2 linked regions of the Homo sapiens genome follow. The protein of the gene in region 2 purifies or fractionates together with the protein of the main gene of each other region. This does not show direct contact. Each region holds a gene or a part of one and is shown on either strand. Other genes may lie near its edges.

Region 1 (8,816 bases), on a different chromosome or scaffold from region 2:
TTTTTAAGTACTGTTAAGAGTCTGGAGATCCCAGGTTGGGACTTAACTGCTCCATTTCAAAAGCAGCACTATACCACACACCCTAAGCAATTTGGAAGATACATTACTAGGTATATTACTATCTAAAGAGATTAGATCGAAAACGTAAGGGGGTAGGAGAAAGAGTGAAGAGGGAAGGGAAAAATGCTCTATATATTCAGTAGAAATATTGATAGAATAGAAATATAGTAGAAATATAGAATAACAGAAGCCACATATGTAATTTTAAATATTCCAGTAACCATAATAAAAAAGTAAAAAGAAATTGGTAAAATTAATTTTAAGTTATTTAATCTAATATATCCAAAATATTATCTTTTAAAATGTAATAAAAAAAGAAATTATTAATGATACTTTACGTTCTTTTTTTCCATACTAAGTCTTCAAGATCTGGTGTGTACTTCACACTTACAGCATGCCTCAATTTGGACTAGTCCTAGTTTAGGTGCTCAACAGTCACATGTGGCCAGTGGCTACATATTAGAAGGTACAGATTTAAAGCATATCCTGGAGTATCCTAAGTTAAAAATCTAGTGCAGGTACTAGATGATCTTGCAAACCTGGAATTTCAAAATCTGAATCCTTGGGAGTTTAAAAAGGTCTGGGCCACAAAGAGTGTCATCATTGAAAAAAAAAACAAAGATATCGCTAAGATATTTAAAAACATGTCCCTTTATTTTTCTTTACAATCTTTAATTCTGGAGGCATGAGAAAGGGGAAAGAAGACAAAGAGAAGAAGAAAAGGTCTCAAACCACAATTCTAATTCATCCATCTATCCATCCACATCCTCCAACGAGCCCTCACTCCACTCACTCACCGAAACTTATTACATGGCTGGGTGCAGTGGCTCACGCCTGTAATCCCAGCAATTTGGGAAGCTGAGGTGGGCGGATCACTTGAGGTCAGGAGTTCAAGACCAGCCTGGCCAACATGGTGAAACCCCATCTCTACTAAAAATACAAAAATTAGCCAGGCATGGTGGTGGGCGCCTGTAATCCCAGCTACTCAGGAGGCTGAGGCAGGAGAATCGCTTCAACTCGGGAGGCAGAGGTTGCAGTGAGCCAAGATCATGCCACTGCACTCCAGCCTGGGCAACAGAGTGAGACTCCTGTCTCAAAAACAAACAAACAAACTTATGCATTACAATCGGTTTGGTAGTCACTGTCTACATTCTGAAGTTACAGAGGTATGTAAAATGTCTTTCCCATGATTCCTTATATTTTTTTTTTTTTTTTGAGACTTAGTCTCGCTCTATTGCCCAGGCTGGAGTGCAGTGGCGCAATCTTGGCTCACTGCCACCTCCACCTCCCGGGTTAAAATGATTCTCATGCCTCAGCCTCCCGAGTAGCTGGGTTACAGGCGCCCACCACCACACCCGGCTAATTTTTGTATTTTTAGTAGAGACAGGATTTCATCATGTTGGCCAGGCTGGTCTTGAACTCCTGACCTCAAGTGATCGGCCTACCTTGGTCTCCCAAAGTGCTGGGATTACAGGCGTGAGCCACCAAGCCAGGCCCCATGATTCCTTATATTTGAAATACACTCATATATACTCTGTAAGATATCCATTGCAGCACTGTTTGTAAAAGCAAAGGTTATAATAACAAAACTAAATGTCTATTAACACGGTCCAGATTAAGTAAGAATTTAATTTTATGGTATAGCAACAGAGTGGAGTACTATGCAGCTCATAAACCAACCAGATGGTACTATGTATACAAATGTAGGACAATAAGAAAAGCCCAAGTTGTATCAGCCGTATGAGAAAAATAATGGGCAGAACAGCATTTAAAAAAAAACAACAATAAAGGATATACAGACATGTTTGTATATGCACAGAACATCCGGAAGACTACATACAAAAAAAAGTAAGTCACTGCTTCTGAGGAGAAAACTAGGTAGTGGGGAAAGGAAAGGAAAAATTACTTTTCACCAAATATCTTTTCTAACCTTTTGAATTTTTGTCCCATGTGCATGTATTACCTATTCAAAACTTAAAAGGTTTAATGCCCACTCTTAAGAACTCATTGTAAAGTTGGAAAGAAGACACAGAAACAAAAAATAAGAATAAAATGTGATATAACATTACTGTACATTAAGGTACAACAATGCAGAGGAGGGCATGATTAAATCTACTGTACAGATTGTCAAGAGAATTTGTCACAAAGAATATGTTTCTCCATAAAAATAAGCTACAAATGGTACTTACATCCTCAGATGAACTCATCCTAAAAATGTCCTTAACTGACACACCACAGTAAAGTAAGACTGTCAGACTCCAAAACTCCACAAACATCTTACCCTGTTATTGTTGACTCTGTATACAGCACAGCTGTCAGTAATGGACGTCTGAGTGTCTCTATAAAGGCCTGTTAACAACTGTAAAAAAAACAAGATGGGTGATATTCAACATTTTAATAGCACACCTAAATTGAGTTATATTATTCTAAGTCTCCCAGGTGTAAGGTTAAGTAAATGAATGCTGCTTCCGACAGGTGAAAAAGACGATATTGATTTTTTTTACCTGTAGAAAAAAATCTAATTAATTGCATATTTTACTCCTCAGTGGAATAAAAACAACATTATTCTCAAAAGACAGTTAGTGGCCAAATTTGCCAAGCTTCTGTAAAGATTTTTAACCAACAAAAATGATTTGAAGCCTGGGCAACATGGCAAAATCTCATCTCTACAAAAAATATAAAAAATCAGCCGGGCGTAGTGTTGCACGCCTGTAGTCCCAGCTACTCGGAGGCTGAGGTGGGAGAATCATCTGAGTCCCAGAGGTCAAGGCTGCAATGAGCAGAGATCTCGCCACTGCACTCCAGCCTGGGCATTGGAGTGAGACACTCCCTCAAAAAAAAAAAAAAAAAAAAAATGGAGGTATTTCTTTAATGGAAGGGAAATAATTTATACTCTCAAAAAGAAGAGTTAAAAAGCAGAAAACCTCTCCTATTCACCACATTAAAATACACTGTTAAAAATACTAAATGTATTAAAAATAAATATTAGTAAAAAGAAGCCTAACTAGCCCACTATGTCAAAGAAGGATCACCCTGTGAAAAAGTGTCTTCGATAAACTGTCCTAAGAATTTGTTAACGAAGGAATTATAAACTGTAGGACACTAGCTTCTATGCCTTCTGCTATTCTGGAATGAAACTAATTAAATAAAATCCTTGAATGTGATAAAGACTAAATATCAGCATCTGGCAAGGGCAAACAGAAAAAAAAAAGGAGAAATGACCAATATTTCTCAATTATGGGTTTCTACGAGTCTTTTTGTTCTCCCAAGTAAGTCAAGAATTAACTTCCAAATTTAACAGCATCAGCTTCTTTTACAAAATAAACCGTGAGATGACAGGAATACTGGGATCTATAAAATTTTCTATTAAGCTTAACAGGGGTGTCAATGAAATCATTTACCCTGACAAAGAGCAACGTTTTCCCGGAATCACAAAGGCCAACAAGAAGAACAGCTCTCTGACTGCTCCTTCTGCTCCGGATTAACTTCCAGAAGACTGTGGAATAGACAGAGAAAAACAACAAAAATTACGCCTTGGGAATCAGTATATGTGCATGGCTGGGGTGGGGAAATTCACAGAAGTCTGTGACGAAACACCTCATTCACCTGGAACTGACTTTTATCATAATGGTTACTATTGCTGTTGTTAGGGATCCACTGAGAGCCAGGCACTGTCAACTGTCAACTTTTCTTTGCAGTCCTTACTCTGACTGGGACTCAGGTGCTATCTCACTACCTTGGTATCCCAGCGCCCGCACGCAAACACGGGAGGCTGAAAGTTGGTGTCAAGACCCTGAGTCTTTGCAGTGAGAACAGCGGAAGGCGAGGAACAGCGCGCTCAAGCGTAACAGGGCAGATGACGAAGAGCAATCTGCGCCCCAAGGACCAGGACGTTAACTCCGGGGGTTGCCCGGCATCCCCCTTAACGCCCAGCTGCTGCCGCTGCTTCAGGAGAGAGGGTGGGGTGTAGACTGGGTGGGTCTCACCCTCCTGATGCCCTCAAGGCGCCCTCTCAGCCCCGCGTCCCCGGCCTGCAGCGGTGCAGCCAAAGCCCGGACCTCTGCCCGCCCCAAACCCGCCATGACCACCGGCCGCCTTTTACCTAGCGTCAGCAGCACCGCAAGAACCGCCACCACTACTGACAACAGCGTTGGGTCCGTCTGCTGCAGCTCCTGCCGCAAGGTGTCTAGGTAGGGCTGGAAGGTGCCCCCGGCACCGCCGCCATCTGCCACCCGGCGCGAGTCCGCGGAAGCCATGGATGAGACGCGTGGTCCCCGGTACAGCAAAAGCGACGTGGCCCTGCACTCTGCGCAGGCGCGGGGAGCAGAGCCTCACGCGAATGGTGGTTCCTAAGCCATAGTCTCTCCCTCAGCCGCGGCGATCCCCCAAGTGCTTGATGGGAGTTGTAGTTCTCTGGGACTCCGTCCTCCTACAGAACGATAGGGGCAGACAGGTTATTTGTCGAGGGACACACACATCTTTTAAGAGATGAGTCAGTCGTCGTCACCTACGTTATGACTGTTGAAAGAATGATGAAATGAATAAAATGAATGAATGGCTCCCGAAACTACCACTGAGGAGTTCCCGACCGTCGCTAAGTGACGTGAGACTTGTGAAGAACTCAAGCATCCTACAAACATTTAATCTGAATTTAATGTGACAAGGGATGTGACAGATGGATGTACGGAGCGATGTGGGAATACATAATGGGACGCGGAGTCCATCATGAGTTCAGAGAAAAGCTTCTGGACATTGGAATTGAGTCCTGAAGAATGAGTTAGCATCTGCGAGTGGTTAAAGGAAAAAAAGGTGCTGTGCAGAAGAAAATGAGTGTAAGAAACGATGTATGTGGGAACCCTAAGTAATTCAGTGCCCCTACACTGTCAATCTAGGGCTGCAAACTCAAATGTCTGCATTAAAGGAAGCAACTAGGAAAATCAACGCCCAGGAGAGCTGGGGCTGTTGAAAACTGCAGGAGGTATTTCTGCTGAAAGTAGGGCCGACCCTATTCAGCCAGGTAGGTGTTATGGGACCTGGGTGGCCGGTTCTTCCAGTTTTCAAGAGAAGCAATAAAGGCAGATTTTTATAGGAAATTTTCCACTTTTGAAATTTTCTGTAGGTAATTGAAAGCATTCAAAAACTTGTGGCCCAAATAAAACACCAAAAGTGGCCAGCCTAGAGGGTCCCAGTTCACAGTCTCTGTCATTAAACAGCTGTCATTGTTTTAAAATGTACACATTATTTAATTTAATTGTATGGCTGAGTAGAGACATGAAGATGTCAGTGTCACTGAAAGATTGAAAAAAGTTTATTACAGTTCCACATTGCCATTGAAAAAGTTGTCAGCATCAAAATGGAGTCACTTGTATTTTTTTTTTTAATCAGAAAAATGGAGCTGGTGAAAGGCCATGGAGGGAGGGTTCTCAGGCACCCATGCCTGATGACAAAAACTGTCACAAAAGACTGCAAAAACCACAGACTTGCACAAAGGCCATCGCAACCTTACACACAAAAAAATACATCTGTTAGGACGGCTACCCAGCAACTCCCTGTCCAACCTAGTACTGATGCCATCCTTGCCATTTGATCCTTGTAGCCAAGGATAATTATCTTAAAACAATTATGGAATCTGACTCATTTTTTCTTTAAAAATCTTTGTCTTCCTTTACACCCCCCTGAATATGCACATAGTTGACTATGGCATGCGTAGTCCCATTGCAATGCCTATTCCAGAATAAATATTATTTTCTTTTAGAGCGTCCCTCTCTGCTTGTTATTTAGCTTGATACCACTCAGGGCCACACAAAACCTCACCATGCACAGGGACAAGGAAAAAGAGAGGAACTGGGGGAGGACCCGGTGACTCACAGCTATTAATCCCAGCGCTTTGGGAGGCCAAGGCAGGAGGATTGCTTGAGGCCAAGAATTCAAGACCAGCCTGGGCAACATAGTGAGACTCTGTCTCTGCAAAAAACATTTTCTTTTTTCTTTTTTTTTTTTTTTTTTTTTGAGACAGAGTCTCGCTCTGTTGCCCAGGCTGGAGTGCAGTGGTGCGATCTCGGCTCACTGCAAGCTCCGCCTCCCGGGTTCACGCCATTCTCCTGCCTCAGCCTCCCGAGTAGCTGGGACTACAGGCGCCTGCCACCATGCCCGGCTAATTTTTTGTATTTTTAGTAGAGACGGGGTTTCACCATGTTAGCCAGGATGGTCTCGATCTCCTAACCTCGTGATCCACCCACCTCGGCCTAAAACATTTTCTTTAATTAAAAAATAATTAGCCAGGCATGGTGGCATATGCCTGCAGTCTCAGCTACTTGGGAGACTGAGGCAGGAGCGCTTGAGCCCAGGAATTCCAGGTTACCGTGAGCTGTGATCACATGCCACTGCACTCCAGCCTGGGCAACAGAGCAAGACCCTGCCTCCAAAAAAAGGAAAAAAAAAAAAGGAACTGGGACTCTTCCTTTATTACTAATGTGTCAGCGAGTAGCTAGATAGAGATGTTTTTGATTGGGCAAGAAGCGAAACACAGATGTTAAGGGTTGTATTAGGAAGATTTGCAATATGATTTAGGCACACCCTCAAAAGCCAGGCCACAGGGGAAATGTAAACAATGTTGGCTGTTAGTTTGGCCTAGTGATCAACAGATGCCAAATCATCAATTATAAAATCTATAAAAATTGATTAGAGCAGTAATTTAAGTAGGAGTGACAGGAGATGAAGCTAGAAAGGTTGGCAGGAATCAGACCAGAAGGGATTTTCTGTGCTATGTTGAGGAACTTAAGAGTTTGTCCAGAATGCAATAAGAAGTTTCATTTGGGGATCGCTTCTCGGCCTTTTGGCTAAGATCAAGTGTAGAAGTTTCATTTGGGGTGACATAGATAATTGACAGATCTATGGAGGACTATGACTTGAGAGGAAAAAAAAAACTTCAGACAGAGAGACCAGCTGAGAGCATTTAGGCAAAAGATGCAGTATTTAGGCAAAGGATGCTCAGAGTCTAATACAGAGACAGAAATAGGTATGAAAATGAGAGCACAAATTTGAGAGATGTCTGAGAGTTAAAATACGTAGGATGTGATTAGTTGGATATTGTGAATTAAGTAAAAGGAATGTTATCAAGGCTGCATCCTAGGTGGTGGGTGTGGGTGACTAGGAAGATGAGAAAGCCATTAAATGAATTAGGGACCTCAACGGGAGAGGGCTTGGGGCTGTGGATCCAACGTAAGAGTAGCCAGAATGAAAATTGTCTCTTTTCTATATGTTGAGTTTTAGGTGCTTCTGGGAAATCTAAAAGCTTATGTCAAGCAAGTGATGAGTAAACACAAATAAAGTTCCACAAGTATATACTAGATTTTCATTTGGGAGTCAGGAATAAATAAGTGGTCATTAAAATCATGGAGAACATGAAGAATGAGGAAAGGAACCCACAAAAAAGCCTAAGAAGGAAGAGTCAGTGGCACAGGAGTAAAACAGACATGTCCTATAAGTGGTCAGTAGCATCTTCTGTAGCAGAGAGGCTCCTTTGACAAGGCTTTGAATGAGTCTGAGCTCAAGGGGATAAGCAAGGGATGGGGCAGTGTGGGGATGGAAGCAAGACTATGGTGTATGGGGAAGACAGTGGGGCATGAAGATAGTTTCTAATGTTAATGAGCACTTCCTGGTGCCAAGCATCATTCTAAATACTTTTAATTTTTTTTTTCAGGCAGGGTCTCACTCTGTTGCCCAGGCTGGAGTGCAGTGACAATAGGGCTCACTGTAACCTGGAACTCCTGGGCTCAAGTGATCCTCCTGCTTCAGCCTCCCAAATAGCTGGGACTACAGGCACAAACACCATGCCCAGGTAGTTTTTTTATTTTTATTTTTGTAGAGACACAGTCTCTCTCTGCTGCCTGGGCTGGTCTTGAGCTCCTGGGCTCAAGTGATCCTCCTGCTTCAGCCCCCCAGAGTGGTGGGATTACAGGCACAAGCCACCACGCCCTGCCTAATGTATTAATTTGTTTAATTCTCACACTGACTCATTTTCTAATTTTACAGAGGGGAAACTGAAGCAGGGTTGAGTAACCTCCCCAAGGATATATAGTAATGAGCAGACTTGGGACTTCATCCCAGGCAATTGGGCTTCTATCTACTTAACCGTATGCTTTAACATAGTAGGATTCATTTTCAAGGCATTTTTAATTGATAAAGGTAGGCGATAGGAACTCCAGATCAAGGAAGGACGGTTAAGATGTGAGGCTTAAGTAAGTAAACCAACTACTTTATTTTAAATTACCAATTTCAAAAATATCAGAACTGGCAGCGGTCATGCCACATTCCATTTCTCTTATTTCTTATGGTCCTAACCGCTGCTCTGTATTCACCACCCAAAACACACGCACACACCCCTTGTATAATATAACCACTGATTCCTCTTTAGAAAAATCACTGGATATTACCATTAGACCTCCTGACTGGGGACCAAAGATGCAGGGAAGAAGGAAGAGCCAGACACGGAGAGTTCCAACCGTAACTGTCTTAACTCGCTGAGGATATTTGGTCAGAGCTATGTGAATGAAGAGGGCTGCCGTGGTGGTGAAGTTGGGAAAGGAAGAAAAAAGGTTCAAGAAAAGAGACTTTTTTTCTTCAGTATGTTTCCTGGGCAGAAGAAATGTGCACAGCTCCCACACTCAGTGAGAAGTTAGCACTCCCATTCTCAGGAATGAGCAGGAGGGGTGAGATTAGTTGCTTCCCTGTACTCACCCATCTCCATCAGGAGC
Region 2 (17,305 bases):
CTAAAGCACCAATTTATGTTAAAATAGCAAAGTGTGATTATAATCATTCACTCTGATTAGAATAAACGCAACACCAAGGTTGTAATTGCTGTTAGGTTTTTGTTGTTGTTGTTTTTAACATGCTCTGTGGAATAGATGAACATGGTAAAATTTGTAACTATTCTGTAATTGAAAAAAATCATGACCGTTTTATTTTACACTTTCACTGAAATAGCAGCTAAACTTTTTTTAAGTCATAAATAAAAGTTTTTGTAACTACACTCAACAGTTTACTCCAAGAGAATAAAATAGGGGCTTCAGAGTCCCTAAATTTCCTGAGGGAAAATATAAGATTAAAATGATTATGGTCTCTTGTGAATAGGGCTTAAATATGCAAATAAGTCACTGATGACTGGGATCAACTGATAGTCATTTGATATCTTACCAACACTGATGGAAATATATTCACAGTATAAAAGAATCCATCAAATTTAGGATTTCTCCTTTCCCTTATCTAATTAAACTAATTAAATATTGACTGAGCACTTTCCTATGTGCTTTAATGAAACCATATGTGAATCTCATATATCTACCATGTTGGCCCAGCTGGTAAACAAGAGTAAAACAAAACAAAGTCTCCAAGGAATGCTATCCCTTAGTTATGAATTTTGCATATTTCAAATACAGTTTGGGTGAAGGGGGTTTTTATGGGATGGTACAAACATCCCACAAACTTGAGCAAAGCACCTTATGGATTGAAAAATGAGGTAATTTTTTAATTAAAATTTTACAAGTTGTGCAAGAAAACATATCCATTCTTTTAAAACTTTGTTTTCTATTCCAAAAGCTATGCACAGCACATTTCATATTTCTCCATTTCCAGGAGAAAATGTAGATTACTGGTTTAAGAAATGCAAAAGATGCCTTTATGTGACTACAGTTCCAAATTCTAAAACCCTAATCAGTCTTCACTCCTTTGGCCACATTAAGAATAATACAGGCCATCTAGCTGTATGGTAAAAAGACAGTATTTTTTAGTAATTTTAAGTACCCTAAATACGAGGAGAGGCAGAAATTCACTGCTTTCATTCACATTTTCTCTTACCTAATATCCTTTTGAAGTTTTTTCGACCTCATGATATTGTCTTTACTTTCAAGTGCTTTGAATTTGTTTTTCGTATGCTTCTAAACCTCCAAATTAATATTTCCCAAATGTTTCACCAAACTATATACATTTAAAGCTGCCTTTAGGTCTGAGGGGCACAATTTTTTTTTCTGCTTTAAATTTAAAATGGAATAGTTGAACATATTTTTTTATATTGGTCTTCCTCTATTTATTTTGGTCCCCTAAAATTTTTTAAAAATACTTTTTTGGGGAACCTGGCTTTTGGATTTCAGTCTTCACAGTAAAAGTGAATGAATAAGGAGGAGACGCTACTGAAAAACTAACCTTGAATATAAACCACTTTCAGATTTATGTAGACATTTATGTAGACATTTGTAAAAGACTGACAACCTGGCTACTAACCCTACTCTTTCAATATGGAAAGTCACACAGAACTATAGACTGGGGTGGCATCAAACGGCAATAAACTCTGAACAAATTAACCACTTCCATTCAATTAGTACAAGCCAAGAAAATAAGGTAAATTATCTAGAAGAGAATTATTTCCAACACAGGCTGGTTCTTTCTAAGCAGCTTACTATCCTTTTCTTAGCAATATGGCTTGTTTTCTCTTTTGCATTGTCATTAGCTATTTCTATTCAGCTATTAATTCGCTGAATTTAAGTTGAATAGCAGTTACTGATACGTTTTTCCCTACTTGGTTGTATTCGTATTCTAAATAAAATAACAGGTGGGAATCAAATAATGGATAAAAATACATTTAATTTCATATTACCTGTATTGCCCTACTATTTGAGGGATTTTTAATTTTTAATAGTAGTATATAAGCATTCAGAATTTTAAAACCAAAAGACATTTTAGAGCTGTAGTTTAAGTTCCTCAGTATGGGAAAAACAAAAGGAAAGCCATGGACACTAATTGTCTAAGGTCAACTAGACAATTGAGAAACGGCCAAATTAAGGCTCAAATCCACTTTTTTAGATGGCTAGCACAATATTCTACTAGATACAAGACACCATGCTGTATCTTGAAGTCACTTTACCCCGGCAAAATGTAAAATAGCCTTTAGGACTGAATTAGAGTGAAGTTTTTTTGGTTCCAAAGCTGTAGACAAAAAGTCTGCCTCATAAAGTTGGTCTCCAAAGATAAATTCCAAAGAAATTTATCCATCTTTAGACACGACACCAGCACATTTTTCTACTGATACGGTTTTACATAGTTAAGGACTAAATAAAAATTGATTATTCAGAATGATTATGTTTATAATTTGTTCTAAGAAACTACACTAAAAAGATTTTTTAAAAAAGCTTCTATATTCTTTAAAATTTTCTTTGTGACCCCCACAACTTTTCAGAGAATATTGTTTACAGCACTGCCTATCACTGTTTCCATACTAAAATAATTATTTTCTCTTTATGCTATAATGAAAGTTAAATTATGCTTAATCAAAATGACTATGGCTATGGGGTGGCACTCATTTAAAATTTTTCAGCAATGAAACTTAAATTTATTACCTTTCTTCTAATGAATATAGAATAAAAGTATTGATACCTTTAAGCATACTAACACAAGAAACTAAAAGCAAAAATTACATATTTAATCTTCAGCTTTTAATAGATTATATATATTAATATTCCAGGTTTTAAGGAATTAAGTTACATTAACAATAAAAAATATTCCATATATTCCCTTATAAAAGGTTCTATTAATTCTAAGAGTTCTCAAATGGGCTTCAATAAGAATGATGGGTTTAAAGATGAAGGACATGACACGCTCAAAATTAAGAAAAATGCTGTATTTGAACTTGCAAGGATAATTGAACACTTTGGTTATAACATACTTAAAAGATTTCTGTTAAAATTTAATTTCCTTGTTTTCAAATTAAAAGGTAGAACAGTCTCCTGAAGGTAATGTAGGTGGGTCCCTTGCTTTTCACTTACTATAAACTGTGCTAACCAATACATGGAGGTGAAGGGGGATATAAAACACAAATTATTTCATCACTGAAATAATTAGCTGCTAACATGACTTCTAAAGAACAGGTATAATATAAAACTAAGAACTTATTTCAAAATATGAATAAAGGCACTAATTACAAATGTACATTTTTTAGACAGTATCTTACAGTTCACTGATTTACAATGAATGTCAGAACCAATGCTCTAGTATTAGATACTTGCTTGGGTTAAAACATTCTCTTGGAGTAAAGAATAATCAGTTTTCACGTTACTGTGACAGGAAAGATTGAGTGAAAACCTAAAAAATACTCTTAAAAAGTCTTACATGAATTTCCTAATCATGAACTTTTCCCAATCAGCACCGTCTACACTGATGCCAATTTCATCTTCAACACATGGCTAACATAAATCATTTCTAATCCAAAACTAACCAAATATTTTTTAAAGGATTTACAAAATAAATTGTATTTTAAAAATTAAATAGCAAATTTGAGTCTATACTAGTAGTTGGCAAAATACAATCAACTATTAAAAACACTTTTAATATAATGCTGATGTGGTAATATAAAAAATAACCATATAATTTGACAGAAGAAAATTGAGCCAGCCAATCTTACTAGATACAAGAAGGCAGATAGTCATTTCATAAGAACAAATACAGGAGTACTAAGTATGCTTTTTCTCAGGACAGACTTAGGGAAACTACCCTCAGTACTTACGGTAAACAACACAACCAAGCAGAAATTCAGGCAAACTGTGCTTAGGTAAATGGCATTTTCTTAATTCCCCCACATCCCACACACACCACAAACCATCCATATCGATTTATGTCTGCTTTTCGCTCATGTTCTTGATTATGGGTTATATTAAAAACTAAGTTAAACTACACTTATCCTCTACTTGATACAGAATCACTAAGAAAACGGCTTAAAACAAAGTTAAACAACTACTTTCCAAAGCCCAGAAAGCTTTCCTTTGGCCACTGTTCAGTTCAAGGGTGTGCTCCAACTAAAGATAAATCAGAAAAATGTTACCACATTCGACTAAATTAACTTGACTAAATATAATAAACCAAGCACACCTGAAAAAAGAGCAAAATTTAAATCAACTTACAAAAATATTAAAATTAAAATACCAATTTTGAACACATATTTTGATATTATGAACTTTGTATCTTTTTTATCAAAATTAAAAAGTACTGCAAAAATGAAGTATTATTCTCTAAGTATTCATTTTATCCCTTTCATTTCAGCAAAATCACACATTTGAATAAACAGGATCGAAATACGACACTTGTCTTTCCTCTTAATTTAAGGAATATATTGTTTAGATTATTGTTCATATTAGACAACTGCCTCAAAAATGTTTTAATGCCATCCAATAAATAAACTTTTGATAGATTATGACTTTTTTTAATTTTAAGTTGTTAAGAATATTAACTTTGAGTCTCCTATTAATATTCTAAAAGCTAGGATTCAATTCAGCAGTTTCCTATAACATTTTAGAACCCAAGGCATAACTACAAAGATGGCAATTGTTTCAAGTCTATTACATAATACCGTCAAATAAATTCAAGGAAAGCCATGTAGTTTTTTAAGTAACATACTGCTGGTAGTAAAAATGCTATGACAGACACGACTTCAAATTTTAAGAAACAAAATGGACTGTTCATACTTCGGCTTCAGCTACTGCCCAAAGCAGCTGTGATATATCTTGCAAAGAAAAGAGCTAAAATTTCTGTTGATAATAAAGTTGTTTGTAAACTGATGCTAAAATATATTCCAATTGTCTTATTTTTAGTGCTGGTATGATTTACTAACTTCTGATAGTTTTATATGCATTGAATAATGTGATATTCTTAAAATAACAGATTTATTCAAGAATATTTAACATCAAAGTTGGGCTTTCAAATAAATATTTTACCTTGGTTAGTTTTTGAACAAATGTTGCAGGCAGAAGAGTGGACTTGATTCCTTTAGATAAATAAACAGCCTACTTAATTTCCATGCAAATAACAACTTAAACATTATTCCATGACTCAACAGTAATGTGGGGGAAAGTTAAAAGGCAAGTACTCATGATGTGGAATCTTCCTTACATATATCCTCTAGGCAGATTTCTTTCTTTACAGTAAGTTCTGTCCGAAAGATGAATGGTTTATAGAGGGAACAAATATATTTAGTGCTGGAGAAGTCTGCAGGCAGTACCTGATGGTTTCCAAGACTACTCTATCAAACCAGTAATTCTCTGGTTGGGAGGGAGTGCTGGTCAAGAATTGAAAGCAATTGGTCATTAAGGTTATAAGAATATTTCAGAAGACATCACGCATATGACAAACATTTCTTACAAGGCAGTCACTGATTAATTAGAATAAACAGAAGAATTGTTGCTGAAAACATAGTTATACATTACATTCATCCAACTGAAGATTAGTGTGTTAAAAAAAAAAAGTTAAGAAAAAATCTTTTATGTTCCAGTTCAGCTGCACTTGATTCAAGTGTTGCTCTCAGAGGTTTGTGTTGTTATAAATTAAACATGCTGCTGCCTTAGCAGCCAAAGGTACTAGGAAAAAATGTTCATGTCACAGAATAAATAGAGCAGTCTCTTTCAAGCAAAAAAGTTATCTCACACCAATCCGGGAGGTCATCCACTCTAGACCTTGGCATAACCTAAACAAAAGATAGAAGTATTTTTAATTAAAAACCTTATACTTAAAAACTGAAAGCGTACTTATTATTTTTAGGTCTTAACCAAAGGCTGGTAGCACAATCATTATTTATATACATCAGTGTCAACATTCAAGTCACACTATAATAAGTGAAATTTTTAAATGGAATGTTCTCTTAAATATTCTTAATCAGTTTGTGGGAAATTGCTTCAGTCTCATCTTGAAGATACAACTTTGCCAGTTTTGCCATGAAGAGTGCAAATACTCCCCGCCTTTTAAAATTAACTGAAACTTAACGACTGGAGAAAGTCAATAGCAACTTCACCTTATCCTCCTCAATTCTAAAGAATGGAATACTTAGACTCAGTCTTAAAAGTATGAGTCAAAAAGGCCTACACACAGCTATTACTGCAAGCTATTTCTGATAAATACTAAGAGAAAAACTAAGAAGGTGAGGTTGATTTGAGGATAAGTTCTCTGATATAAACAGGATAATACTTAAATAACATTCGGTTCTTCTTGGCCTAATACCCACATTCAAATTGTTAGAGATGGAAGAATAGACCATGTGGCATTTGTCTCAACTGTTTATTGTCTGGAAATATGCCTCCCAAAAGACCTCCTAATAATAAAGAAGACATACTCTTGCAGAAAGCTGAGAGCTCAGGTTTAAGTCCTTGCAGAAAATGTGAAATTTCTTTCAAGCTTCCTTTTTAAAAGAAAGGTGACATTACAGTTTTTTTCTCAGTATATGATAAAGGCAACAAAGAAAAAAATTTGGATTATGAAAACTCAATTCAATAGTTTATTGCTTTTTGGTAAAACATTATATTTACATTAAAAGTTTTTAAGTTGCCAGTGATTTTACTAGAATTATTTCTAGGTTGTAAGCCTGAGACACATTATAAAAGTCACCTTTAATTAAGAACAAACAAACAGAAAAGGAACAGGACCCATGAAGAAAACAAGTTGGCCTAAAAAGTTGGAAGAAATTTGAAAGAAGTCATACCTCCCCTCAGACGGATGAACTTACCCTTCTCCTGTGAGAGCACAGCAGGATTGAATGTGCCATGGATGATCCTTAATTGAACTAAGGGTGAGGTATTTCGAGATTTCAGCTGCTGTCATACACCCTTTCATATCCTGTTTATTTGCAAAGATAAGGACTGCAGCCTTCCGTAAATCCTGCAATCAAGACAAAATATTTCTAATATGTGAAATACCACAATTTAAATTTACCCAGCTGAACAGTTATAATGAAGTGCTTCTACTTTAACATAATCGGGCACTAGTATTTAACATAAAAATAATCTCAAATACCCGTAATTTCATTATTCATTCCAACAGATTAATATTAAATAATTATTTTTTATTTTTGAGTCGAACTGGTCAAACTGAAAAAAAAAAATACACCTGAATTTTAAATACTGACTCAAAAATACATAATTAATATTCTAATAGGCAAATATGGTAGTATGTTGCCAAATACTAGAGTTTATCCAAAACTTAAGAGTACTGGTGGTGGGAGCTGGGCAATACTTATTACTTACTAGTCTTTGTATAACATAAGGTCATTGGTTAATATTCATTTCAGCATTGTTTATACTATGAAAACATTAGAAGAATAGATTGTGATATACTCATACTGTGGAAAACTATACAGTTGTTAAAAGGAATGAACGAAAGCAGTACATATTAAGATGGATAATCAGAATATATTATCATGGATAAGTCACAATGTTGTACAAAAAGAGCAAGATTCAGAAAGATATATATTATATAGTATAAGTTTGAAAAACATGGAATACAGGCCAGGCACAGTGGCTCACACCTGTAATCCCAGCACTTTGGGAGGCTGAGGCAGGCGGATAACGACATCAGGAATTCAAGGCCAGGCTGGCGAAGATGGTGAAATCCTGTCTCTACTAAAAATACAAAAATTAACCAGGCGTGGTGGCGGGTTCCTGTAATCCCAGCTACTCGGGAGGCTGAGGCAGAGAACTGCTTGAACCCAGGAGGCGGAGGTTGCAGTGAGCCAAGATCGCGCCACGGTACTCCAGCCTGGGCAACAGAGCAAGACTCCGTCTCAAAAAAAACAAAAACAAAAACAAAAAACAAAAAAAAAACCTTTCAGTTATTGAAACTTTTGGGGAAAAGACCCTTAAGTTTTCCTTTTGCTTATCTCAATTTATCAGACTTTTAAAGGCATGCTTAAGTAACTTTAGCTTTGAAAAATTTTTACAATAACAGTAGTAATCTACAAATTAATGTGTTAGGGTTTTTTAAGTTTGAAAAAGTAATGAACATTTTTTTTTACCTCAAGACTTTCATCAGTTTAGTACATAAAGTTGTGTTAATCATAAAATAGCCAACATCATATCACATTAATCTTTGCAAAAAAGCAAAGGCAACGTACAGATACTTTACTACACTGTTTTTTAAAGATTTACTTTAAAAATTTACCTCATGAGCCAACATTCTGTATAATTCTTCTTTTGTAATAGCTAGTCGTTCCCTGTCAATGCTATCAACAACAAGAATGATGAACTAGAAGAAAATTAAAAGGAAAGACAGAAAATTGAATGGGATGCTGAAAAGTTTTCTGTAAAACTACTCAAGTAATCTAAGTACTTTCTCTACATGGCATCATCATTACTATAAAACATCTACTGCTTTTTCACCATAAACAGCTTTTATAATACTGAACCACATCAAGCAGTAAAATCCAAATGTTAACAGTAAGAAAATAACTCATAGCTTCAACAAATAAAAACTGTGCCCCACTTGTTTTATTTTAAGTGATGCCCGAATACATAATACTATGATTTGTTTTCAAATGCTGGTAGTAAAAAGCAATTTTTGAAAAGAAACTTACACTAATTTCAATAATATTTTTCACTAAAACTTCAAAGTACTCCATTATCATTCATCTAAACAGTCAATAATTGCTTACTTGTGTATACCACAATCTCCTAACTCTTAGAAAGAAAAGCTAGTTTGAAAGAAAAAGATAAATGCATTTTAAAAATAAGACAATTTTATAAAACAGTATCCACCATAAATGCTCCAGATTGAAACATATATACTTAGGCATTATATACTGGAGATTCAGGTGAAATTAAATAAAGGCAAGACACCAGAAAAAAGAGGAGAAATCTGTTGGTAAAGCTATACATGAAAAAAGGGAGTTTGCATATTAAAAAATAAGAAGATATAGGCCAGGCATTGTGGCTCACACACATATAATCCCAGCACTCTGGGAGGTGAGGTGGGATGACTGCTTGAGCCCAGGAGTTTGAGACTAGCTTGGGCAACATAGTGAGAACCTGTCTCTCTACAAAAAATAAAAATTAGCCATGCACATAGTCCCACCTACTTGGGAGGCTAAGGTGGGAGGACTGCTTTGAGCCTAGGAAGTTGAGGCTGTACTGAGAATCATGCAACTACACTCCAGCCTGGGTGAGAGAGAGGCCCTAACTCATTTTTTAAAAAATGTGGGGGGTGGGTGAGGGGGAGGAGGAGGAGGAGATGGAGGAGATGATACAGCGAAAAAGCACCCTTAAGCTGAACACTGTATACAGAATAAAAAGTTAAGAAATGAGATGAAATGATGTTATTACAGCAGGAGATAGATGCAAAATAAACTGAGACATGAAGGGTAGAATTAGATTACAGAGATGACTTTAAAATTAGGGAAACAGGCTAGGTGCAGTGGCTCACACCTGTAATCCCAGCACTTTGGTAGGCCGAGGTGGGCATATCACTTGAGGACAGTTCAAGACCAACCTGGCCAACATGGTGAAACCCTGTCTCTATTAAAAACACAAAAATCAGCCAGGTGTGGTGGTGTGTACTGTAGTCCCTGCTACTTCGGAGGCTGAGGGAGGAGAATCCTTTGAACCTGGGAGGCGGAGGCTGCACTGCTCTCCAGCCTGGGTGACAGACTGAGACTCCATCTCAAAAAAATAAATAAATAAAAAACAAAAATAAATAAAATTAGGGAAACAGACAACTAATCTGAATATAAACTGAGTTGGGCTTAGAAGGGAATAAACGGAAAGAATGTCGCGTGGCAAAGGAGGAATCAACAGAATATGGGAAACAACTGTGAGTTAATGAGAGGAAGGTGTCAATAATTACTTAATACCTGTAACTTCTTGTATTATAATGGACATACTACCGCTTTTGGGGGACTCTTCCACGTGAAGAATTTTCAAAATGCAAAGTGACAGGCGCCACTGTTCTTTGTAGTAATTTTGATATTCTTGTAGAGATCACTTATTAAAAGAACGTTTCATGCAAATGGCATCAGTAATGGATATCTCTTTCTGGACCCATGCTAAGTCCTCCAGAGTTTCAGTCACTTCAAGAACTACCCTTTCGACACACTTTAAGTACATATGGATTCACTAGAATCAACTTTGACCTATTCATCAATGATAACTGCCCTTTTCACAGCTGGAGTTAACTGTGAGCTTAAAACTACTAACAGCTCTGATGTTTAAATTAATCATATGCTACAATGTCATTTGTCCCTTACTTTCTTTTCTTTTTTTTTGAGAGAGAGCGAGACTCTGCCACCCAGGCTGGAGTGCAGTGGTGCTATCTCAGCTCACTGCCACCTCCGCCTCCCAGGTTCAAGCGATTCTCATGCCTCAGCCTCTGGAGTAGCTGGGACTACAGGCACATGCCACCATGCCTGGCTAATTTTTGTATTTTTAGTAGAGATGGGGTTTTGCCATGTTGGCCATGCTGGTCTTGAACTCCTGGCCTCAAGCAATCTGCCCACCTCGGCCTACCAAAGTGCTGGGATTACAGAAGTGAGCCACTGCGCCTGGCCCTTCCCTTACTTTCTAACTTATTCTAGTTTCAGAACATTATTTTACTGTATAAATGTATAAGCTACCCTTTAACTATATTATTTGCTTACAGCTTCTGCATACCCAATAAAATAATTCAGTGCTACCACAAGTTCTGATTATCTATGATACGCCATCTTTGTTTACTTACACGTTGCATTGGAATATATACACACATACACACATGCTATTATAATATAAATCTAGAACAATACATGTTTTTTAAAGAGGCAACTTTGTTCACCAAAAATTATTCATATTATATCCTTTTCTACCTCTTCCCTTCCAACTCCAATTTTTTTTTTTTTTTTTTTTGAGATAAGAGTCTCGTTTTGTCACCCAGGCTGGAGTGCAGTGGTGCCACCTCGGCTCACTGCAAACTCTGCCTCCTGGGTTCAAGCGATTCTCCTGCCTCAGCCTCCTGAGTAGCTGGGGACTACAAGTCTGCCCCACCACGCCCGGCTAGTTTTTTGTATTTTTAGTAGAGACGGGGTTTCACCTGTGTTAGCCAGGATGGCCTCAATCTCCTGACCTCATGATCCACCCGCCTCGGCCTCCCAAAGTGCTGGGATTACAGGCGTGAGCCACCGTGTCTGGCCCAACTCCAATTTTTAAAAGGTTTCATTTTAGAAAAAAATAATTGGTTAGGTGTACTTCTTTGCAAAGAACAATTAAATGGATGCAATTGTGAAATCATACTATCAAGGATAAATCTCTCTAAACTACATTGAATGGCTTTTAAAAAAATCTGCCTCTAATAAGAAATAAAAGCAGAAATAGAACATGAATATATCCAGGTTTGTTCCCCAAGTTAGCTCTGAACTCATAAGTGGCAGAGAACTTTGAGAGATGATTTGCAAATCTACTTTTTTCTAATTAAAAAAAAATCTACCAACATTTTGAATGTTCATGGTATAAAAAATTTTTAAATTAATAAAATATTTTATTCCTCCACCGGTCAGGGTCTCTTAGAAAGTTGTGAGATCTTGGGGAAACCTACATAATATCTCCACGTGTCAGATCTCTCCAACCCTGGAGACATGAAAATCTTGTGAAGATGAATGGAGAGAACCTGGCCAAACAGTAAGCACTCAAGTAATAATAGCTCCAAACAATCTTTCTATTTGCCTTTTCTTTTATTCGAAAACCCAAATTCTTAAGTCTCATTTATGAAATTTTTATTTATTTATTTTTTAAAAAAAGGAAACCCAAATTCCCTACAAAAAAGGATCTTATTAAAAGGCCGGCCACGGTGGCTCAAGCCTGTAATCCCAGCACTTTGGGAGGCCAAGGAGGGTGGATCACGAGGTCCCGAATTCAAGACCAACCTGATCAATATGGTGAAACCCCGGTCTCTACTAAACATACAAAAATTAGCCGGGTGTGGTGGCACTCGCCTGTAATTCCTGCTATTTGGGAGGCTGAGGCAGGAGAATGGCTTGAACTCAGCAGGCGGAGCTTGCAGCGAGCCAAGATCACTCCACTGCACTCTAGCCTGGCGACAGAGCAAGACTCCGTCTTAAAAAAAAAAAAAAAAAAGGCAACTGTCAATACGCCCAGGTGCAGCCTAATTACTTTCTATGTTTACTCTAGGGACCTTTGGATTAAAATTCAAAATTCATCTTAGCATACCTCTGTATTTGAGTAATATGTGTTCCAGGATGATCGCAGAGACTCCTGACCACCAATATCCCACATAAGAAAATGAGTGTTCTTCACAACTATTTCTTCAACATTGCTTCCTATGGTTGGAGAAGTATGAACCACTTCATTCATTAAGCTGTTGAAAAACAGACACCGTAAAAGCTCTTGTAAATCTTGAGAATCTGAAGCAACTTTTATCTCTGTATTTTTAAGATCAATCAACCTTCTGCACCAATGATGGTGATCATTAGCATGAAAATTATAAACCTGGAGAACACTTGCGCAAATCAATATCTAGATAACAACTCCAGAAGAAAGACTTGTTTCTTGTTTGTTTTTTTTTTTAACGGAAGGAATTGCAAGCTTGATGGAAAAGAAAGGAAACAGTGTGGTGTGAATTTGCATTTCTGTGGCCAAAAATTCCAATACCACCATGCCCTGTTATCAGTTAGATAAGACCCAATGTCCCATGCCATCCTGAAAAGCAAGTTTCTAGGTGATTGCAAAATAGCAAATATTGGATAGCAGGCTATCTATAATTTTGAAGACTGTCTAAATTGAGACTTAGTCACAAAAATTAATTCAGGCATATTAATCTAAAGTAGTCCTAAAAAGATGACCATGGGCAAGTAAAAATTTAAATTAACTATAGATATATTTAGAAGGCCAGGTGTGGTGGCTCACACCTATAATTCTAGCACTTTGGGTGGATCACCTGAGGTCAAGAACTTGAGACCATCCTGACCAACATGGTGAAGCCTCGTCTCTACTAAAAATACAAAAATTTGCAGGGCGTGGTGGTGGGCGCTTGTAATCCCAGCTACTCTGGAAGCTGAGGCAGGAGAACCGCCTGAACCTGGGAGGTGGAGATCACGCCATTGCACTCCACCCTTAGAAACAGAGCAAAACTCTGTCTCAAATATGTGTGTGTGTGTGTTTGTGTGTGTGTGTATATATATATATATATATTTAGAATACTGATGCTCATACCCCTCGTATTATCATAATCATTGGTAAAGCTACATTAATCAATTAATTCAACAAATATGCCCTTGCCAGTAACATGTCACTACTGTGTTGGAGGAGGCTTGCAATTCTCTTGGGTTTTATGTATATTTTTGAAGCCATGTGTAAAATTATTTCAACAAAGATGACAGGTTTCTGAAATGTTTATATGTGATGTTTAAAAGCTAATTCATATTTAAACACATAATCACCAATGAATGAAAATGTTTTCAAGAGAAACAAGTAGTTGTTCAACTCTGAAACAACAAACTTTAAGTCAGTAGCTTTTTAGCAAAGTAGCTGAAAAATGCGTTAATCACTGGCTAATGAAGTACTTCTGGTGAGCTGATGGCTGTCTTCTAATGCAACATGAGTGGGAAGAGGTAAGAGCCACACAATGGGGCAAAGAACTGTAGAACTATTTTGTTAAAGTGCCTGGTAGATCCACTTCTACTGCTTAATACTATCATTTCATTGGCATTGAAAGGATAATGGAAGGTACTCTGACAAGTGGAATGATGAGCTGTGAAAATTTCCTAAGGTATTAACAGATTTCTCTGAAAGTCTCAAGACTCTCCCTCTTGCAAGCTACTACAGCAATATTTTCAGGAGTGATCACATTTCTTTTGACAAGTCTGGCTATGTTAAAAAATTCCAAAGCTATTAGTCAGGAGGGTAGCAATGGCTTCCTAGAGCTATCAATTTATTTACATAAACCCAAGTGGGGTAAGAACTAAGTGAAATCCACTTTATCACCTCACCCCAGCACTTCTAATATGCGCTTTATTTATTTAATATTAATTTCTTTCTTTCGAGGGCAGAAAACAATAAGTGTTTGTGAAGGGTTTAGCAAATGTTTATTTCACTCACTTTTCTATAGATTGTGTTCGGTAAAATTAAAAAAACAAAAAACAAAAAACATATATTTAAGTTTTTCCGTCATTATTATAATGCATCTCTTATTAATTGTAAACACATTAGTTTCAATAACTAGTGAAAACTGTTTAATAAACACCCATACTTACAATTGGTAAAGAATGGTGGTTTTCCCTGCATTATCCAGTCCCACTATAATTACTTTGTGTTCTACAAAAAGAAAGCAAATCATAAACATTTAACACTACTGCATTACTGCAATTACATGCTTTCAACAATGATTATTAGTTAGCTCATTAATGAGAATCATTCACTGAATATCTATCACTAGACTTAAAATGCAGAAAGAAATGTTATGATGTTAAGGCTACCTAGGTTAAGTAACAAAATCAATTATCATTGATTCTCTGTCTAGTTCTCATGTAAAAGAATGTGGGAGATGGGTAGGCAGGAAACACCAGCAAAGTTGGTCACTTATATTGCATCTAGGGGAGAGGAGACCCAAATATTAATCTAGGCAAAAATTATAACCTAAATGTAAGTTTTTTAAAAAGCCTGTTTTACACACCTTTTTAGCTCTGTACCAATCAAGTTAGCTTTTTATCAAAATGTTTTCATATCTGTAAGTTTCCCCACCTATGTATACCAGGATCTGTTTCTTCCTCTCACTTAAAAATCCCATGTAAGCTTAAAATTGAAACGTTTCATGTGTCACAAAGACAAACATATACTCTCAAGTTTTTACACAATTACTCATTGTTTAACATTTTTTCAACCGGCTTCTACAGTTCTTTTGAGCAGATTCTGTTTCTGCTCTTTGTACAATGAAAATCTCTTCAGTTCTTTCCTCCTTTGGGTGCCATGCACTAAATATTCACCTCTTTTAATAAGTAGTTGCTAAAGCTCATCTAATTATTCCGTTAAGTGGTATATATTCTGCAATGTCCTTTGAATACAGAAAACAACCCAGATACCATCTTTCCTAGATTTTCACTTATGCCAAGTATACTAAAGATCCCCTTCTCCAAGGCAGAAGAATGCTTAAAAAGTTACAAGTTAACATCAACAGGGTAAGTAGGGAAGTTTCCACAGAATCACAACACAGTTGATTTGTAGGCAACGATTGGGCACATCTCATATCAGAATCCCGCTCTTCTTGATGACCTCTGGTGAATGTCAACATTCTGGTCATATAATCAACTATCAGCTCATATTCCTACTCTGAAGTTCTAAACTTCATCAGCCAAAAAAAGAGGGACCAAGAAAATTTAAGTTCTTGAGATGTGCAGGTCTTCCAATGACCTACACACTCTAGATACAGCCTATTACAGTGCAGGATAAACAGACACGGTCCTCTGGAAGGGCTATTTTCACTATGGTAGAAGCTGCTTTGTAAAACAAAACAAAACTTGCCTGCTTAGTATAACTCACTATAATTCTCCTTATTTATTTGAGACAGGGTCTTGCTTTGTTGCCCAGGCTGGAGTGCAGGGGCATGATCACTGCAGCCTCGACCTCCCAGGCTCAAGTGATCCTCCTACCTGAACCTCCTGAATAGCTGGGACCACAGGTGCACACCACCAAGCTTGGCTACATGTCCTCTAATGAAGCTAATCTTTAAGTATTACCCTGTTTGTTATCCCTTAAAGTACAAGAACCTTTATCAGTGAGGAACAAACAGACTGCCTGGCACTAAGCATTCTAAATTTTGGTGACAGCTAGAAGCTCCACCTACCAAGCATCTACAGAAAACAACATGCCTGCAGTGGTGAGAAGGAAGCCACTAGTTTAAAGATAAGCAAAACTTGAAGGCAGATAATCCTGTTGGGAGAAAGGAATGGAAGGACAGTACCAGATGGCTCCTTCTTGAAGCAACTCAAATGAAGACCCAGGTCATTTGCAAACAATCCTGCTCCTTGCTTCACTTTTGCACTATGATGCTTCACATAATACTGAAGGCCTGTGATGGTAAAACTCACCAATAATGCACCATTTTGAAAGGTAGGTCCCTAACATGAGGAAATGTTAGGTTAAGACACTACTGTTAGGCCAGGCGTGGTGCCTTACGCCTGTAATCTTAGCACTTTGGGAGGCCGAGGTGGGAGGATCACGAGGTCAGGAGATCAAGACCATCCTGGCTAACACGGTGAAACCCTGTCTCTACAAAAAATACAAAAAAATTAGCCGGGCATGGTGGCGGGTGCCTGTAGTCCCAGCTACTTGGGAGGTTGAAGCAGAAGAATGGCATGAACCCGGAAGACGGAGCTTGCGGTGAGCCGAGATCGGGTCACTGTGCTCCAGCCTGGGCAACAGAGCGAGACTCCATCTCAAAAAAAAAAAAAAAAAAAAAAAAAAGACACTACTGTTACTATCAGTTACAGTAAATCAGAATGTTTTAGGCCAGGTGCAATGACTCACACCTGTAATTCCAACACTTTGGGAGGCCAAGGAGAAGTGATCAGTTAAATCTAGGAGTTTGAGACCAAACTGGGCAATACAGTAATATCCCATCTCTTAAGAAAAAAGTTAGCCAGGTCAGGCATGGTGGCTCACACCTGTAATCCCAGCACTTCAGTAGGCTGAGGTGGGCAGACCACAAGGTCAGGAGTTCAAGACCAACCTGGCTAATTTGGTGAAACTCCGTCTCTACTAAAAATACAAAACTTAGCCGGGCATGGTGGCAGGTGCCTATAGTCCTAGTTACTTGGGAGGCTGAGGCAGGAGAATCACTTGAACCTGGGAGGCAGAGGTGGCAGTGAGCTGAGATTGCACCACTGCACTCCAGCCTGGTGACAGAGCAACACTCCGTCTCAAACAAAACAAAACAAAACAAAAACAAAGAATGGTCTGGAAGACAGGATGCAGATAGATGATAAGTTTAAGTTTAGTGTGTTTGAAACCTGCTTACAGTCCAGAGTTAAGAGCAGAATAAGCTGGGGCCGGGCGCAGTAGCTCACACCTGTAATCCCAGCACTTTGGGAGGCCGAGGTGGGAGGATCACAAGGTCAGGAGATCGAGACCATCCTAGCTAACATGGTGAAACCCCGTCTCTACTAAAAATACAGAAAATCAGCCGGGCGTGGTGGCAGACACCTGTAGTCCCAGCTACTTGGGAGGCTGAGGCAGGAGAATGGCATGAACCCGGGAGGCAGAGCTTGCAGTGAGCCGAGATAACGCCACTGCACTCCAG

What was found.
Region 1: the proteins of ARL5B (region 2) and SRPRB purify together in Homo sapiens (affinity purification with mass spectrometry; 3 studies listed by BioGRID and IntAct, with this or other methods). This does not show direct contact.

Annotation. Positions count from the first base shown.
Region 1 is NC_000003.12:133,801,349-133,810,164, reverse strand, and holds the start of SRPRB (signal recognition particle receptor subunit beta), read right to left. Parts: upstream 4,351-8,816; 5' UTR 4,317-4,350; coding exon 4,163-4,316; intron 3,557-4,162; coding exon 3,462-3,556; intron 2,420-3,461; coding exon 2,342-2,419; intron 1-2,341. UniProt on the Homo sapiens protein: Component of the signal recognition particle (SRP) complex receptor (SR). Ensures, in conjunction with the SRP complex, the correct targeting of the nascent secretory proteins to the endoplasmic reticulum membrane system.
Region 2 is NC_000010.11:18,663,595-18,680,899, reverse strand, and holds part of ARL5B (ADP-ribosylation factor-like protein 5B), read right to left. Parts: intron 14,326-17,305; coding exon 14,265-14,325; intron 12,371-14,264; coding exon 12,223-12,370; intron 8,279-12,222; coding exon 8,195-8,278; intron 6,917-8,194; coding exon 6,765-6,916; intron 5,733-6,764; coding exon 5,684-5,732; 3' UTR 1-5,683.